Linked DNA regions of Homo sapiens: region 1 is linked to region 2. The links come from fine-mapping of genetic effects on gene expression. Tissue or cell type: spleen. Region 2 holds a variant in brackets; the other region holds the start of a gene. All regions are shown on one strand. Distances are from middle to middle.

What was found. PIP is the estimated chance that this variant, and not a neighbour inherited with it, causes the effect.
Region 1: it holds the start of BTNL3, and the variant in region 2 is fine-mapped to the expression of BTNL3 in spleen (GTEx, PIP above 0.99).

The regions. Positions count from the first base shown.
Region 1 is chr5:180,984,416-180,992,605 of GRCh38, forward strand. It overlaps BTNL3 (butyrophilin like 3), which reads left to right and starts at 4,431. Exons shown (of 8, transcript NM_197975.3): 1 at 4,431-4,662. The coding sequence starts at 4,614. It also overlaps the pseudogene ARPP19P1.
Region 2 is chr5:180,953,775-180,961,964 of GRCh38, forward strand. No RefSeq gene overlaps it. Among named protein-coding and RNA genes, the nearest start is that of BTNL3, 31 kb to the right of the region's middle. The variant T/G (reference allele first, on the strand shown) is at 3,693.

The DNA of each region.
Region 1 (8,190 bases), 31 kb after region 2:
CTTCATCTTTGACTTGCAGAGAGCCTCCTCTTTTTGGATCCAGGCATCTTTTCTGAATCCTGGTTCCATTAGTATACCTGCTCTCCTATGATCCCAAATCATAGTCAATGGTGCCTCCAACATAGCACCTTCAGTTAAAGGCTGCCTAGTGCTCTGAGGAAAGCTTACTGATTATCTTCCTGCTCTACTCACCCCGAAAGGCAGAAAAGCAACATAGTCACTCCTGTGCTCATTTGTAATTGTAAAGATCAGAGATATAGATATTTGTAATGAGAGCAAGTATATACTCATTATAGGATCAATTTAAGAAGTTTAAAATATCCCAAAGTAGAATTTCTATATCTAGTCTTCTGGGTTTTTTTCACGAATATTTGCAAGTGATTACGCTTAACTTCACACATGAAAGATTAATCTGAAAGGTCAGAGAGACCCTGTTATTCCTGACCACGATAGAACTGCTCCTGTGGTTTGGGACAAGTAACAAAACAACTGCTTGAGTTTTGTTTGTAAAATACACTATTAATATTTGACCTACCTCAAAACGTATTGAGGATCTGTGAAACACTAAGTGCCCAAAATAAAATATTGCTGATTGTCTTTTTATTAAAAGTAAATTTCCTCATTAAGCCAACCGGCCTTCTGTAAGTCACAGTGCTCAAGTCTCAGGGTTTGTCATTAGGAGAGGTCTGTCGTTAAGGATTTGTAGGTGTAATTGCCTAGCCTCCATTATTGGTGATTGCGATAGAGAGGTTTTACATTTTTCTGTTTTTCATCCTGCCCCAAAGCTCAGTTTATTGAAGACATTTGTAAGCTATTGGATCATCACTTGAATCAAGATTTTGACTAGTGAGCCCAATTGTCCCTTTCTTATTATTTCAAAGCTATAGTCTGAGAAATGGCTAATTTTAATAACTGTCCTATCATAAATTAATGTTGGAATAAACTGAAGTTGGAGATGAAGACTTCATGAAAACTAACTAAAGTCTGAAATAAATCACCTGTTTTATGTCCAATAGCTACTGCCTTTGATAGAACAGTTTTGAGGAACATTTCATTCTTGAAGGCAGCATCCGACATGGTTCTCAGCAAATTGGAATAGTAAGGATTGTTGGGTTGTTTCGATGAGTGGAAGCAGCGTTTGTAGCATAAAAGTTATTCAATAATCTTGTGCTGTTGACCTGAAAATGTGTCTTAACTATTCATCAAGGCAAGCCTGGTGAAGCCTTTACTTGTTACTACTTCAACAGTTGGAATTAGTTGCTCTTTTTACTTGATGAAGCAAAACTATACCTCTGAATATTTATGGATGCTTTTTACAAAATCAGGCTTGTGTTCTTAATCCGAATTAGTAAAGTTTTATGGAAGCTGAAATGTAATACAGTAGTCTCCCCTTATCTGCAAGAGATACAGTCCGAGACCCCTAGTAGATGCCTGAAACCTCAGATAGTACTAAACCCTGTATAGTCTATGTTTTTTCAATCTGACAACCAAGGCGGCTACTAAGCGACTAAGGGGCAGGTTGTATACAACCTGTGTGGATAAGCAGGACAAAGGGATGATTCACATCCCAGGCAGGACAGAGGAGGAGGATCATGAGATTTCATCACTACATGGCTTGTGATTTATTTTATTATTATTTTTTTTTTTTGAGAGGGAGTCTCGCTCTATCACCCAGCCTGGAGTAGTGGTGCGACCTTGGCTCACTGCAGCCTCTGCCTCCTGGGTTCAAGCAGTTCTTCTGCCTCAGCCTCCCAGGTAGCTGGGAATGCAGGCGCCCGCCAACATGCCCAGCTAATTTTTGTATTTTTAGTAGAGACAGGGTCTCACCATGTTGGCCAGGCTGGTCTCGAGCTCATGACCTTAGGTGATCCGCCCTCCTCGGCCTCCCAAGGTGCTGAGATTACAGGAATGAGCCACAGTGCACAACCAGCTTGTGATTTAAAACATGGTTTATTTCTGGAATTTTCCACATAATATGTTTGGACCAAGGTTGCCTCGGGTAACAAACTATGGAAAGTGAAATTGCAGATAAAGGGAGTTACTGCTGCTGTGCTCTAAAATTGGTGTTTGGGTGATCAGGAGTGGGTAGCCAATGGGAAGAGGTGATCAGGAGCAGGTAGCCAATGGGAAGAGGTGATCAGGAGCGGGTAGCCAATGGGAAGAGGTGATCAGGAGCGGGTAGCCAATGGGAAGAGCACTTCTGAGTGATCACCAAAGCAGTTTCTTTAGTGGTCTTTTCACATTCTCCAATGTTCAAGCATATTTTCCACTTTCCATTTTCTATTTCACCTCATTTTGCCTCATCATCTGCCATCCCTGCTTATTTCTTAAGCCTACTGATGGCACTCACTAAATTGTGTTTAGGGCTAATGAATCATTGTTCCTTAATATCCTTTTCAATATGCCACAATTTAGAATGCATTTAAAATTTTCTAAAACAATATCCTACTCTGAATATTAACTAATTTGAGCCACATTCCCATCTCTAACTCAGCACAAAGTGCCAGTCTTCCCCAATATCTCCTCTCAACTCCCCACCGCACCTTATAAAATTGGAATCAGAAATCTCACTCTGTCATTGCTCATCTTAGAATAAAAACACTGATTTTAATACTGTTTTACTAGTTTCAGCCTTCTAAGTACGTAGGCCTCTAGGTATTCTGCAGATCACTGGTGGTCTTGATAGCCATTCATATATGTTCGTATTATGTTATTTTTCAACTAAATCGCAATTGGAAAAAAACATCTTTAATATTATGCCCTTGGATCTGTTACTTCATTACTAATACTTGTGATGCAATAGGACACTTCACCTGTACTAAAAGGGCCAAGAGTAAATGTCTTGTTTTGTTGTTGTTGTTAAACATGTCTACAGAGTTGGCAGTTAATGCTGAATTTGTCAAATAGCTCTTCCAAAATTATACTTGTATTTAAAAAATAAATGGATCTACCTAATTTCTATTCATCTAATTTGCAGTTTTGTCTTATTAAAGTGGTATGTTTTTCAATGTATTTTTTTCTGAAGTTGATCTCTTTACATTTCAGCTATTACTGTAGGCAGAAAGAAATTGACTTGTAATCTTTGATTTTTTTGCATTTGTAATGGCTTTGTACTTAAGGTAGGATTACATGTTTACAGATTGTGGGGGAAAAAAAAAGAAAAGTGAAGGGAGAGAAAAGACAAGGCGAGTGGCCAGAGACCCTCAGGATCCAAGAGTTAACTCTGATTAACTCAGATGCTTTGTTCAGCCAATTTCAGACTTCTTTTTTCCTAATACAAGCACTTAAGGATAAGCCTTTCTGTAAGAACTGCCTTACATGCATCATAGTATTTTAAATGTAGTGTTTTCATTCTTCTTCTAGTCTAATTACCTTCAACTTCTATTATTAGTTCTCTTAGACCCATTAGTTATTTAAAATTGTGTTATTAACAATTTCTAAGTTCATGGGGTTTCCTCTTTTTAAATTGCTCTTTACCTTCGTTGTCCTTCGTGGTGCTCTCCGTGGAAACCTGCTTTCTGATCTAGTAAGTGCTTATTCTTTGTGCATGTCCCTAGACTTGAAATCACTGCATAATCCCTAACTGTGTGTGTCCTGGCTTAGTGCATCTAATGAATGACTGAATGAATGCATCTTTGCCTTTGCCTTACCCCCGGGCCTGAAACATCGTCTTGGTCCCCTTCTCAATACCTTGGATCCTTGGAGATCAAGGTCCTGGTTGTTCTGGCAAGTTCAACACAATCTGGCCTCATGATCAGAGTCCTGTCCCTGAACTCAAGACAAGGGAGGGATGGGCAGAATTACCTCATGCTGTGCCAGGAAATATGAGTCTCATGGGGCATGGCCTGTGTGCCTGGGCAAATTCACTGCCTCACTACCCTGTGCTGAGATGATCTCTTTTTTTTTTTTTTTTTTTTTTTTTTTCTGAGATAGAGCCTCACTCTGTCACCAGACTGGAGTGTAGTAGTGCAATCTGGGCTCACTGCAACCTCCCTCTTCCCGGTTCAAGCAATTCTCCTGCCTCAGCCGCCCAAGTAGGTGGGACTACAGGTGCGCACCACCATGCCTGGCTGATTTTTGTATTTTCAGTAGAGACGGGGTTTCATCATGTTGGCCAGGATGATCTCGATCTCTTGACCTCGTGATTCACCTGCCTTGGCTTCCCAAAGTGCTGGGATTACAGGCATGAGCCACTGCGCCCGTCCAATCTCTCTTTCAGGGACAGATGTTCACTCTCTCTTGCAGCTCTGCCTGCCAGACTAAGCCTGAAAATATCTCTGCATCTGGCATTCCTTTACCACCTATGTGGGGCACAACCCAGAACAAAGTCCCTCCAAGTGTACCCTACTCTCTTTCCATTATCATTTCTCTGGTCTGAGATAGATGTTTATGACCTGCCAATAAATGCAGTGACTCAAACTCCAGTGCCCATACTCCTCATTCATACAGCCATGTTTAGGGAGGCTCTAGGGAGAAATGCACAGTTTGACATCGTTCATGAAGAGCCTCTCCACGGCTCCTGCGCCTGAGACAGCTGGCCTGACCTCCAAATCATCCATCCACCCCTGCTGTCATCTGTTTTCATAGTGTGAGATCAACCCACAGGAATATCCATGGCTTTTGTGCTCATTTTGGTTCTCAGTTTCTACGAGCTGGTGTCAGGTAAGCCTTTCAGTTTGGACTGTTGTTTTTCTCCTTGTTGAATAATATTTTGAGTTCATTCATGACAATGATCTCAGCACAGTGAGATGCAGGAATCTTTGGTGCTTGCATTCTCCAGCTTCTCCTGGCCTCAGGCTGGAAACTACCAATGCCAGGAGCTGTGGGAAGCACAGGGCAGCAGGAATTGAGGAAGACTCCTTGGGCTGTTTCTCAAGGACTTGGGCACTATCACAGTAGCTCAGAATAATGGGAGCAGGCCCTGGGAGCAGGGAGGGAACACATTGAGAACGCCAAGGTAAACACATTGTTCTCCCCAGGTGGGCTGTGGGGCTTAGGCAGGGGAAGTCTCTAATAAAATCCCCAGGTTTTTGACTTGGGTGCCTGGGTGGAAGGTGGCACTGTTTAGGATGTTTGGAGAAAAAGACAATGTGTCCAGTTATGCACATGCTGAGTTAGAAACACCTGTAGTTATGGGGTAGAGCACCAGACCTTTAAGTGAGGAGTAAGTTGGAACCTGGCATAGTCTAGGCAGAAACCCACTCTTCTTTCTCCTTCTAGTAACCATCAAGACAAAGCCTGGTGTATAGGATATTCAGTAATCAAATAAATTTTGCAGGGAGAGATAGGGGCTGGAGTAGAACACTGGATTCTGGGTGGTCAGTGTTAAGCCACAAAAAGTTCATTTGACTGTGTTCACTTTCTGTCTGGAACAGTTCCATCCTGCTATTTGTCTACCTATGACTGTTTTGCTAAACAAAGCCAACAAAACAGAAATAAGGGGATCAAAATCCATGTGTGCTCAGAGGGCGTGGTGGCTCACACCTGTAATCCCAGCACTTTGGGAGGCTGAGGTGGGTGGATCACCTGAGGTCAGGAGTTTGAGACTAGCCTGGCCAACATGGTGAAACCCCATCTCTACTAAAAACACAAAAATTAGCCGGGCATGGTGGTGAGCGCCTGTAGTCCCAGCTACTCGGGAGGCTGAGGCACGAGAATCACTTAAACCCAGGAGGCGGAGGTTGCAGTGTGCCAAGATCGTGCCACTGCACTCCAACCTGGGTGACAGAGTGAGACTTTGTCTCAAAAAAACAAAAACAAAAAATCACAATCCACGTATGTTACTCACAAGACAGCCTCCGTTTAAGTACATTCTCACCCATTTTCTGACAAGCCTTTCTGTCTGCTTTCTGTTTCTGCATGAGGCAGCAGGGCATGCTGGAAATGACCTTAGAGGAAGTAACACTATTTTTAAAACTTTCCTTTTCTCTATGAGCTTGTGGCTAATAACTTCTATTAGCATCAATTTTTGCTTATGATGACATAGAGATAATAAGATCACATCTGTGACATTCCTGTGGCTGAAGGGCTGCTGTGTGGATTGCGTGAACTCGTGCATGTAGAGCGTCCAGCACGGAGCTCCGCTGGGGCACAGTATGTTGCGACAACAGACAGTGTCATTCCTTGCTTCTCCCCAGGGGAAGGAGTAAAGGGAGACGCTGTCGGCAAGACAAATGACAGCAGCAAGGCTGGCCGGAGAAACAGACATATACTAAAAACTGTTTGCCTGGCTTGAGAGTCTCACACAGCCTTGAAGGCAGCACTCACAGCAGCCCAGCTGACAGGCTGGGTCCCAAAAGCTGATCTAGAGCAAGGGCCTTTCTGCAGGTGGTTTGTTTAGCAGACTGTTCTCAGAAACAAAAGTGACAGGGTGCAGAGAGTGAAGCCAGCGGGAGGTAAGCCATAGAGGGTGCGCTAATGAGCAGGTTGCTGCGGTGGCAACTGGGACCCAGTCCCACTGGGTCCTTTGGAGGAACTGTATAGACGATGGCTCAGGATCTTCCCAACATCCACTGCTTCCTGTTCCCCACTGGGTGAGATGTGCCCCTCCGGGACTATTAAAATCGCAAACCTTCTTGGCCACCCTGTGCCTGGGCTGAGGAGGTTCCAAAGGTTGCAAGAAGCCATCAGCAGAGAGGCAGAGGCCAGGCTCCAGGGGCGGAGCTGTCAGCAGGCAGGCAAGTGCCCATCCCATTCCAGGGGGACTCAGGGTTGGGTGGTGAGGAGCAGGGCCTCAACATCTGCTACACCAGGTCAGCAGCTGGTCTGACACCAGGCTGCAAAGTCACGCCTCACTTAATAATGCTCTTAAAGATGCATGAGTGAAATACATTTCAGCAAGATTTATAAAATGTACTTAAACTTAGAAATAATTAGTGCTAAAATTAAAAATATCCACTTATCTGGAAATTCACACATGGGATCCACTTTGCCTCTGATGCACATGCAGATACCACACACAGATATATCCATATACCATAAATGGATACATGTGAATGAATCAAGAGACACTGCCAATCAAAGGGGGTGGGTACTTAGAAGGTGAAGGGAGTGGGCCTCCATCGTTTGTGGTCTCTCTAAGAAGAACTCTAATCATACAGAGTTGTAAGTGTGATTTGCACCAGAAAAATTACTTAGTTGACCACAAAACCAAGAAGCAAATGCAAAAAGAAAGTAGCGCTCACCATTCCTAGGCATAATCCCTGTCTGTGGAGCCCATTCTCCATGCTGGGCATGGGGAATCCTGTGCTGAGGGAAACACACACACTCTGTCCTCATGAAGCTAAAAGTCGTGCAGGGAAGGCTCGCAGAAAACAAACAGTTATGTCACTTGCAGCAAGATGAAGACAGTTTCAAGTGAAGATCAAGACAAAGCTGTACCAAGAAAATACAAACAAAACAAAACAGGTAAGCCATGTTGATAAAGCACTAGAGTGGGGGTGTCCAATCTTTTGCCTTCCCTGGGCCATATTGAAAGAAGAACTAACACTAACGATAACTAATGAATGAAAAAAAATCACAAAAAATCTTATAATGTTTTAAGAAAGTTTAAGAATTTGTGTTGGACCGTATTCAAAGCCGTCCTGAGTCTCATGCAGCCCACAGGCTGTGGCTTGGACAAACTTTTGCTAGACGAAGTACTATTCAAGCACGAAATAATAAAGTGGAAAAACATAAAATTATTACCTGGAGTAAAATGTAGGTGTCATGGAAAAGATATGTCACAACATCAGTGCACTAAAGGGCAAATCTCTGAAATAAAAACTACAAAATCTCCTCACTGTGTCACACCATGTCCTTCAGAATATGGCAGAAGTCTACTTAAAAAAAAGAAGCACAAATAAATGTGCTTCAGCGGAGAATATATATTCCTTTCTTGTATCCATAAAACATTTACAAGATGTAATCATCTATTTGAAGGAAATAAATTTTCCCAAATTCGATATTTTATGGCCACTTACTCCCCTCCTGGGTCATTAAAAAAGGTTTTTAGCATAGAAGATGCAAAGGGGGTGGTGTGAGTGTTCATTAAGCAGATGGGCAGAGAGGAGAGCACGTGGAGATAGATTCTCCTCCAGTCAGGGAGTCTGCATTTGGAAGGTGCCTCTCAGGCCCCTGAATAACTCATCCCCAGAGACAGGGTTTCCTCATGTTGAATGTGGGAATATTGATAGCACATACCTCACCTCA
Region 2 (8,190 bases):
GCACACACACACACACACACACACACACACACAAATGAATGCATGTAAAAACTGCTAACATGTGAATCAGGCCTGGAGTCTAGTTAACATATTTATATCAATATCAATCTCCTGGTTTCAATATTGTGCCATAGCAAAGCTACATAAGATGTTGCCATTGCCTTAATTTTAAAAAATTGTTACCATTGGAGAAAGCTTGGTGAAGGGTACTCAAGACTCAACAATTTTTGCAATTTCCTGGGAGTTTATATGACTGTTTCAAAATAAAACAAAAATTTGTAAAGCAGCTTTAAAAAAACAACATTTATTTTAAAATGAAGTTGGGTTGTCGAAATAAATAAATGTGTGTGAAACAGAGTTTCAGAGATTCAACTGGTATCAGCTCACATCAAATGACAATGAAACAGAAGACTTAAAAAAATTTCTGTAGCTTTGAGTATCAGAACAACTATCTTCAACAAATCAAAATTGAATGATGCCATTAGCTGTGCCATCCAAAGTAAATAAGGACTAAAATCATGAATAAGAAAACTTGGAATAATAGGTGATAAAGCTAACATTAATGTAACATGGTAGTCCGACTAGAAACAATAAGTGCCAATATAACGAATTCCCCTGCAAAACATCCCCACCACCAAGTTAGTTTTCATTATAAAGATGATTAAAACAAACTAAAGCAGCCACAGACAGGAACACCGGGCCTGCCTCCTGGTGCAGCCGTCTGAGCTTCCCACCTTAGGACAGCAGTGGGAAGCAGGATGGTGGGGCCCAAGTCAGGAGCTAAGTCCCCCTACTGTGCCTGGGGAAGGATGCAAGGCTCCTGAGGCACCTCAGGAGAGGAAGCAGAGAGGGTTGTAGTCGATGAGCTGAGTCTGGAGGCCAGAGGGAGCCGAGGGTCTAGGAGCACGTGGTGAGTGGCAGAGATGCTGGTAGGCTCCCTGTGTGTTTTTCAGGGAGTAATAAATACAAGCCCAGAAACTACCAGGAGCCAGGCATTAGAGATATGAGGATGGACTGCTGTGAACTGTCTAGGAACAAAATAGCTGAAAGGGCACTGTGGAAGAAGGTGTCAGAAAATTAACTTCTGAAAGGAAAGGAGAGAGGGCTAGGAAGGCCTTGGGCAGCCAAGTTCATACAGAGACGTGTGTGTGTGCATGTGTGTGTGTGTGTGTGCGCGTGATGTAAGGAGAAAGGAGGAAAGAAGTGGGGGTAAAAGTGAAATTTTCTGAGCTATTCTGTGGTTTTTTTCTCTGACATGACCAAAATAGGAAGAAAAAGAAAATAAAACTAAAGAAAAAAACAAAAAAAAATTCACACACAAAAAAGGAGCAGCAATGTCACTCACACATGAAACCTGACTTCACATCCCAGATCTGCTTGGGATGCAGAAGTCCATTTGACTGTTAAAAATGTATTTTTATCAAAGTGATGCAAACTAATATTTAAAGGAGTTTTTAGGTCCGGTGCGGTGGCTCACATCTATAATCCTAGAACTTTGGGAGGCCAGGTGGGTGGACTGCTTGAGCCCAGGGGTTCGAGACCAGCCTGGGCAACATTGCAAAACCCTGTCTCTACAAAAAATACAAAAAATTAGCCAGGTGGGTGGTGCATGCCTGTGGACCCAGCTACTCGTGAGGCTGACAGGAGGATTGTTTGAGCCTGGGAGGTTGAGGCTGCAGTGAGCTGAGATCACGTCACTGCACTCCAGCCTGGGTGACAAAGAGAGACCCTGTCTCAAAACAAACTAACAAACAGAATCCCCCCCCACCACAAAAAACCAAACCAAAACCATGATTTTTAAAAGCATTGTAATAAAAAGCAATAGTACCCCAATGCCTTACTACTGTGTCCCTTTCCAACCCACCCCAGTGTTGTACCCACAGGGAAAACTTTATGGCTTCTCTTTTTGGTTGTTTTTCCTTATAGCTAAGTTACTTGTTTCTTCTTCTGGCATTTTATTTTATTTATTTATTTATTTAATTTTTTTTTTCGAGTCAGAGTCTCGCTCTGTCCCCCAAGCTGGAGTGCAGTGGTGCGATCTCGGCTCACTGCAACCTCCACCTCCCGGGTTCAAGTGATTCTCCTGTCTCAGCCTCCTGAGGAGCTGGGACTACAGGCACCCGCCACCACACCCAGCTAGGCTAATTTTTGTATTTTTCGTAGAGACAGGTTTTCACCATGTTGGCCAGGCTGGTCTCAAACTCCTGACCTCAGGTGATCTGCCCACCTCAGCCTCCCTAAAAGGGCTGGGATTACAGGCATGACCCACTGCGCTCAGCTATTTTGTTTTATTTTTAATTGACAAAAATTGTATATATCTGTCGTGTGTAAGATGTTGTATTGAAATATGTATGCAGTGTGGAATGGCTATAGACAGCTAATCAACATATGCATTACATCACATACTTATCTTTTTTGTGATGAGAACACATGAAATCTATTGTTTCAGTAATTTTCAAGAATACAATACATTGTTACTAACTATAGTCACCAGGTTGTATAATAGATCTCTTAAACGAATTCCTCCTAACTCAAACTTTTTACCTTTTGACCAACATTTCCCCAAACTTCCCACATACTCAGCCCCTGGAGACCACCATGCTATTTTTTACTTCTGTTAGTTCAACTTTTCTAGACTCTACATATACATAAGATCATGCAGTATTTCTTTTTCTGGGCCTGGCTTATTTATCTTAATATAATGTCCTCCAGGTTTATCTACGTTGTCACAAATAACAGGATTTTCTTCTTTTTTAAAGGTTCATACTACTTCATTGTGTATCTATATACATACATAGTGTCTACCCACACATAAATACACAAACACAATGTTGAATATTTTCTTCGGAGAAATGTTTATGTATATATACAATATTTTCTTTTTCTTTCCTTTTTTTTTTTTTTTTGAGACAGACTTTCACTCTTGTCGGCCAGGCTGGAGTACAATGGCGCGATCTCGGCTCACCGCAACCTCCGCCTCCTGAGTTCAAGCGATTCTCCTGCCTCAGCCTCCCAAGTAGCTGGGATAACAGGCATGGGCCACCACGCCTGGCTGATGCCTGTAATCCCAGCACTTTGGGAGGCCAAGGCAGGTGGATCATCTGAGGCCAGGAGTTCGAGACCAGCCTGGCCAACATGGTGAAACCCCATCTCTACTAAAAATACAATATTTTCTTTATCTCTTTATCTGTTTACGGGCGCCTGGGTTGATTCCATTTCTTGGCTGTTGTGGATAATGCTGCATGGCAGTGCAGATATCTCTTCAATATACCAATTTAAATTCCTTTGCATATACACCCAGGAGTAGGATTACTGAATCATAAGGTGGTCATATTTTTAATTTTGGGGGGAATCTCCATGCTGTTTTCGATAATGACTGTACTAATTTACATTCCCACCAACAGGGTGCAAGAACTCTCTTTTCTTTACATCCTTCACACCTATCTTTCATCACTTTGATAATCGCTATTCAAACAGGTGTGAGTCAACATCCCACTGTGATTTTAGTTTGCATTTCTCCCATGACTGGTGATGCTGAGCATTTTTTCATATATGTTTCAAACATTTAAATGGTTTCTTTAGAGAAATGTCTATTCCAGTTCTTTGCCCATTTTTTAATCGTCTTTTTTTTTTTTTTTTGCTGTTTAGTCAAATTCTTATATATTCTGGTCAGAAATTCCCTATTGGATGTC[T/G]AGTTTGCGAATATTTTCTCCCATTGTGTGGGCTGTCTTTTCACTCTGTTGTTTCCTTTGTTATGCAGAAACTTTTTGAATTGATATAATCTCATTTATCTATTTTTGCTTTTGTTGCCTGTGCTTTTGAGGTTTTACACAAACAAACCATTGCCCAGATCAATGTCCTGAAGCATTTCCCCAGTATTTTCTTCTAGTAATTTTATAGTTCCAGGTCTTATATTTAAGTTTTTGATCCATTTTAATTTGATTTTTTATATGGTGAGAGATGGGGCATCCAGTTCATTCTTCTGCATATGGATATCTATTTTTCCCAGCACTATTTATTGAAGAGACTGTCCTTTCCCCAACATATGTTCTTGCTGCCTTTGTTGAAAGTGAGTTGACTGTAAATGTATGGATTTGTTTTGGGATTCTCTATTTTGTTCTGTTGGTCTGTGTGCCTATTTTTATGTCACTACCACGCTGTTTGGTTACCAAAGCTTTGCAGTAAATTTGGAAGTCAGGTAGTGTGATATCTCCAGCTTTGTTCTTTTTGCTTAGGATTGCTTTGGCTATGTGAGGTCTTTTGTAGTTCCATACAAATTTTAGGACTCTTTTTCTATTTCTGTGAAGAATGTCACTGGCATTTTGATATGGATTATATTGAGTCTATAGATTATTTTTGGTAGTATGAATATTTTAACAATAATAATTCTTCCAATCCATAAACATTAGAAATCTTTCCATTTGTTTGTGTCCTCAAACTTCTTTTATCAGTTTTTTATAGTTTTCATTTTAGAACTTTTTCACTTCTTTGGCTAAATTTATTCCTTGCTATTTAAATTTTTGGTAGCTATTGCAAATGAGATTGCTTTCTTGATTTCTCTTCCAGATTGTTCACTATCGGCATCTATAAATGCTACTGATGTTTGTATGTTGATTTTGTATCTTAAAACTTTACTCAATTCATTTATCAGTGCCAAGAGTTTTTTTGCTGGAGTGTTTCAGTTTTTCTAATTATAAGATTATGTCATTTGCAAACAAGAACGATTTAACTTCTTCCTTTCCAATTTGAATGGACTTTATTTCTTTCCCTCGCCTAATTGCTCTTGCTAGGGCTTCCAGTACTATGCTGAATAAAAGTATTGAAAGTGGACACCTCTGTCTTCTTCTAGCTCTTAGAAGAAAGGCTTTCAGGTTTTTCTCCTAATAAGTATGATGTTAGCTGTGGATTTGTCATACATGGTCTTTATTGTGTTGAGGTATTTTCTTTGTATATCCAGTTTCATCATGAAGGCACGTTGAATCATGTAAAATGCTACTTCTGAGTCTATTGAGATGATCATATGGTTTTTGTCCTTCATTCTGTTCATGTGGTGTATCCCATTTATTGATTTGTGTGTATTAATCCATCCTTGCATCCCTGGGATAAATTCCACTTGATCATGGTGTGTTATCTTTTTGCTGTGTTGTTGGAATTGGTTTGCTAGTATTTTTGCATCTGTGTTCATTCAAGATATTGGCTTGTAGTTTTCTTTTTTTGTTGTGTCTTTGTCTAGCTTTGGTATGAGGGCAATGCTGGCCACATAGAATGACTTAGGGAGAGATCCTGCCTCTACAACTTTTGCAAATAGTTTGAGTAGAAATGGTATTAATTCTTCTTTTAAAGTTTGGTAGAATTTGTCAGTAAAGCCATCAGTGATGTAACCTGTCCCCAAGTCTCCCAGCAATGGGTACCAGCACCAGCTCTGATGAGGGTGGCAGGGGAGTAACGTAGACTCTGAGATTCCTTTGTTATAAATAGGCTTAGTATATTGGCTTTCTCAAATGTTGGTTACGGTAGTAATGAACTGTTCACCTGGACAGACTAGGACCCACTGGTTAGTCAGGACACTGTGGGAAATGGTGATAGCTGAGGTCACACACAAGTGTTCTTCTTCCTGGGTGCTCTGTTACTCCTCCTGGAGCTGCTGTAATGGACTGACTGTGTCAGTTGGCCTCTAGCTTGGAGGTGTTGCTTGGAAAAGAGCACCAGCTGCGGTAGTAGCAGTGGGATTTATACTTGCCTTATGTTACCCAGGGGGTACTGTGGTGTCTCAGGCAATGGGAGGGGCCATAAAATTCCCAAAAGTTTCCGTCCTTTGTGTTAAGCTACCAGGGTAGGTGGAGGGGCAAAACCAGGTGGAGGCTGGGTCAGGCGGGTCCACGTGCTGGCTCTCCACATGCAAGGCAAACAATGGCTCTTGTGGGGGTTGAGGGTGGTTCTCTTGCCACTAGGACAATGTTCCAGGGAGGGGTGCAGCTGCCTCTATTGCACAGAAGAGTTTACACAGGGAGTGGGGAGTAGCAGGTGGCATAAGCCCCACACAGTCCCACGTACTTGGCAAGGCAAACCTCACGCCCAGAGTGTTCCACTAGCAGCGGCTAGCTAAGTTCCAGGCAGTTTGTGCTCAGAACTCAAAACTGCTCCAGGCCATAAGCCTTTCTGGCAGAGACAGCAACTGCGGCATTTAGGCCATGCCCTTCCCAGTCTGCCAGCAAAGCCAGGGTGCCCAGCTTCTGCACTCATGGATGCAGCACGCTTTTCACTCACCTCCCACTTCTGGCAAAGAAAGTTCATCCCCACTCGAGAGAATATCATGAATTTTAGTTAGAAGCTTTTCTTAACCTGTGACTGCTGCCTGAATAAGCTGGCCGACTTCTGTGAGGTCCCCTGGGAGGCAGGATCAGGAATGGCTTCCTTCGTCCACACTGGAGGCTGGGAATGCATGCAAGGCTCTTGTGCTGGTGCTCCTAATTTTTTGTTCCCCACTACTCCCTAAACCAGTTTCAGGGCTGGATAGAATTAAGGCCTTCCCCTCCGGCCTGTATTGTCAGGTTCCCACGTCGCAGTGTATATCTTGGGGGCAGTTTATCCCCCCTCACACTTTGAGGACTTACAGTTTTCTGCCTGACTCATTGTGTAGGCTGCAGCCTGCCACTTCTTTCAAAGAGTTTGTGGTTTCTTTCAGTTTTCCTGTTAAGTTCTTGCCTGCTTACTAGAAAAAAATTCACACTGTGTATGTCTAGACACTATTTTGTCTTTCCAAGTAGGAGAGGCATGCTAACAATGCCTCTAATCCACCATCTTGGGAAAAAACCTTTTAATTGTGGGATTTAATATGTTTACTTTCAAGGCTGTTATTGATAACTACTTCTTATTATTTTGTTAATTGCCTTTTAATTGTTTTGTATATCCTTGTTCCTTTCTTATTCTCTTATTGCTTATCTTTGCAATTTGATGGCTTTCTATAGTGATGACATTTGATTCCTCTCTTTTTCTCATTTGTGTATCTGCTTCTTCCAGTGAGTTTCATACTTTTGTGTGTTTTCGTGATGGGAGATATCATCCTTTCACTTCTAGATGCAGGAAGTGCATTTAAGCATTTCTCAAAGGCCTGTCTAGTGATAATGAATTTGCTCAGATTTTGTTTTTCTGGGAAAGACTTTATTCCTCTTTCATTTCTGAAGGATAACTTTGCTAGGTATCGTATTTTTGCCTGACAGTTTTTTCTTTTTCTTTCAGGGCTTTGAATATATTATCCCATTCTCTCTTGGCCTAGAGGTTTTTGCTGAGAAATATGCTGTTAATCTGATGGAGATTCATGTGACTTGATGCTTTCCTCTTGACATTTTTACAATTCTTTCTTTGTCTTTGACTTTTGACAATTTGAGTATAATGTGCCTCCGAGAAGACATTTTGGGTTGTGTCTATTTGGGATTCTTTGATCTTCCCGCATATGAATGTCTTCATCTCTTCGAAGACATGAGAACTTTTCAGCTATTATCTTTAAATCGGTTTTCTATGCCTTTTGCCATGTTTGTACCTTCTGGAACTCCCAACATTTGAGGTTTTGTTCACTTGATTGTGTCCCATATGTCATATAGGATTTCTTCACTCTTTGATTTTTTTTCTGAGTTATTTCATTTTTTTTCTTGAAAGATTAACTGTTTAACTATAAAGAAATAACTAAAAATTAAAAATAGCTTATAAACTTTATTTATATAATTACTGAAGGGAACAGAGTAACTGTTTGTGGTGGTGGACCCAGGAAGGCGGCTCTCAAGTTCTGGGGAGTGCGTATTTCCATTCTCTATGTTCTCAGCACAGACTGTCTGATGTGCAGGAATGCCTGCTTCCAGGTTTAGAGTGCTCCATGGGTTCAGATTTACTGCACATCTCGGTCCAGCTAATGCTCTGATGCTGCAGACTTCTGGGTGGATATGAGAGGATGCTAGTGGGACCCCAGGGATGTGGAGATGCAGGGGCTATTAAGCCATGGTGCAGAATGTTGTCTTGTATTGGGTCTGTTCTCAAAATGATGTCATGCTGCAGTTGATTGGGTCCTGGGGATGTAATATTGCATGAACTCCTTCCGTGGAACAGTGCAGTCACATGGACCCCAGGCAAATCCCTATACTACTCAGGGCCTTTGAGGGCTGAGGGGCTTTCCTGTAGCATGTACTACAGGACTCT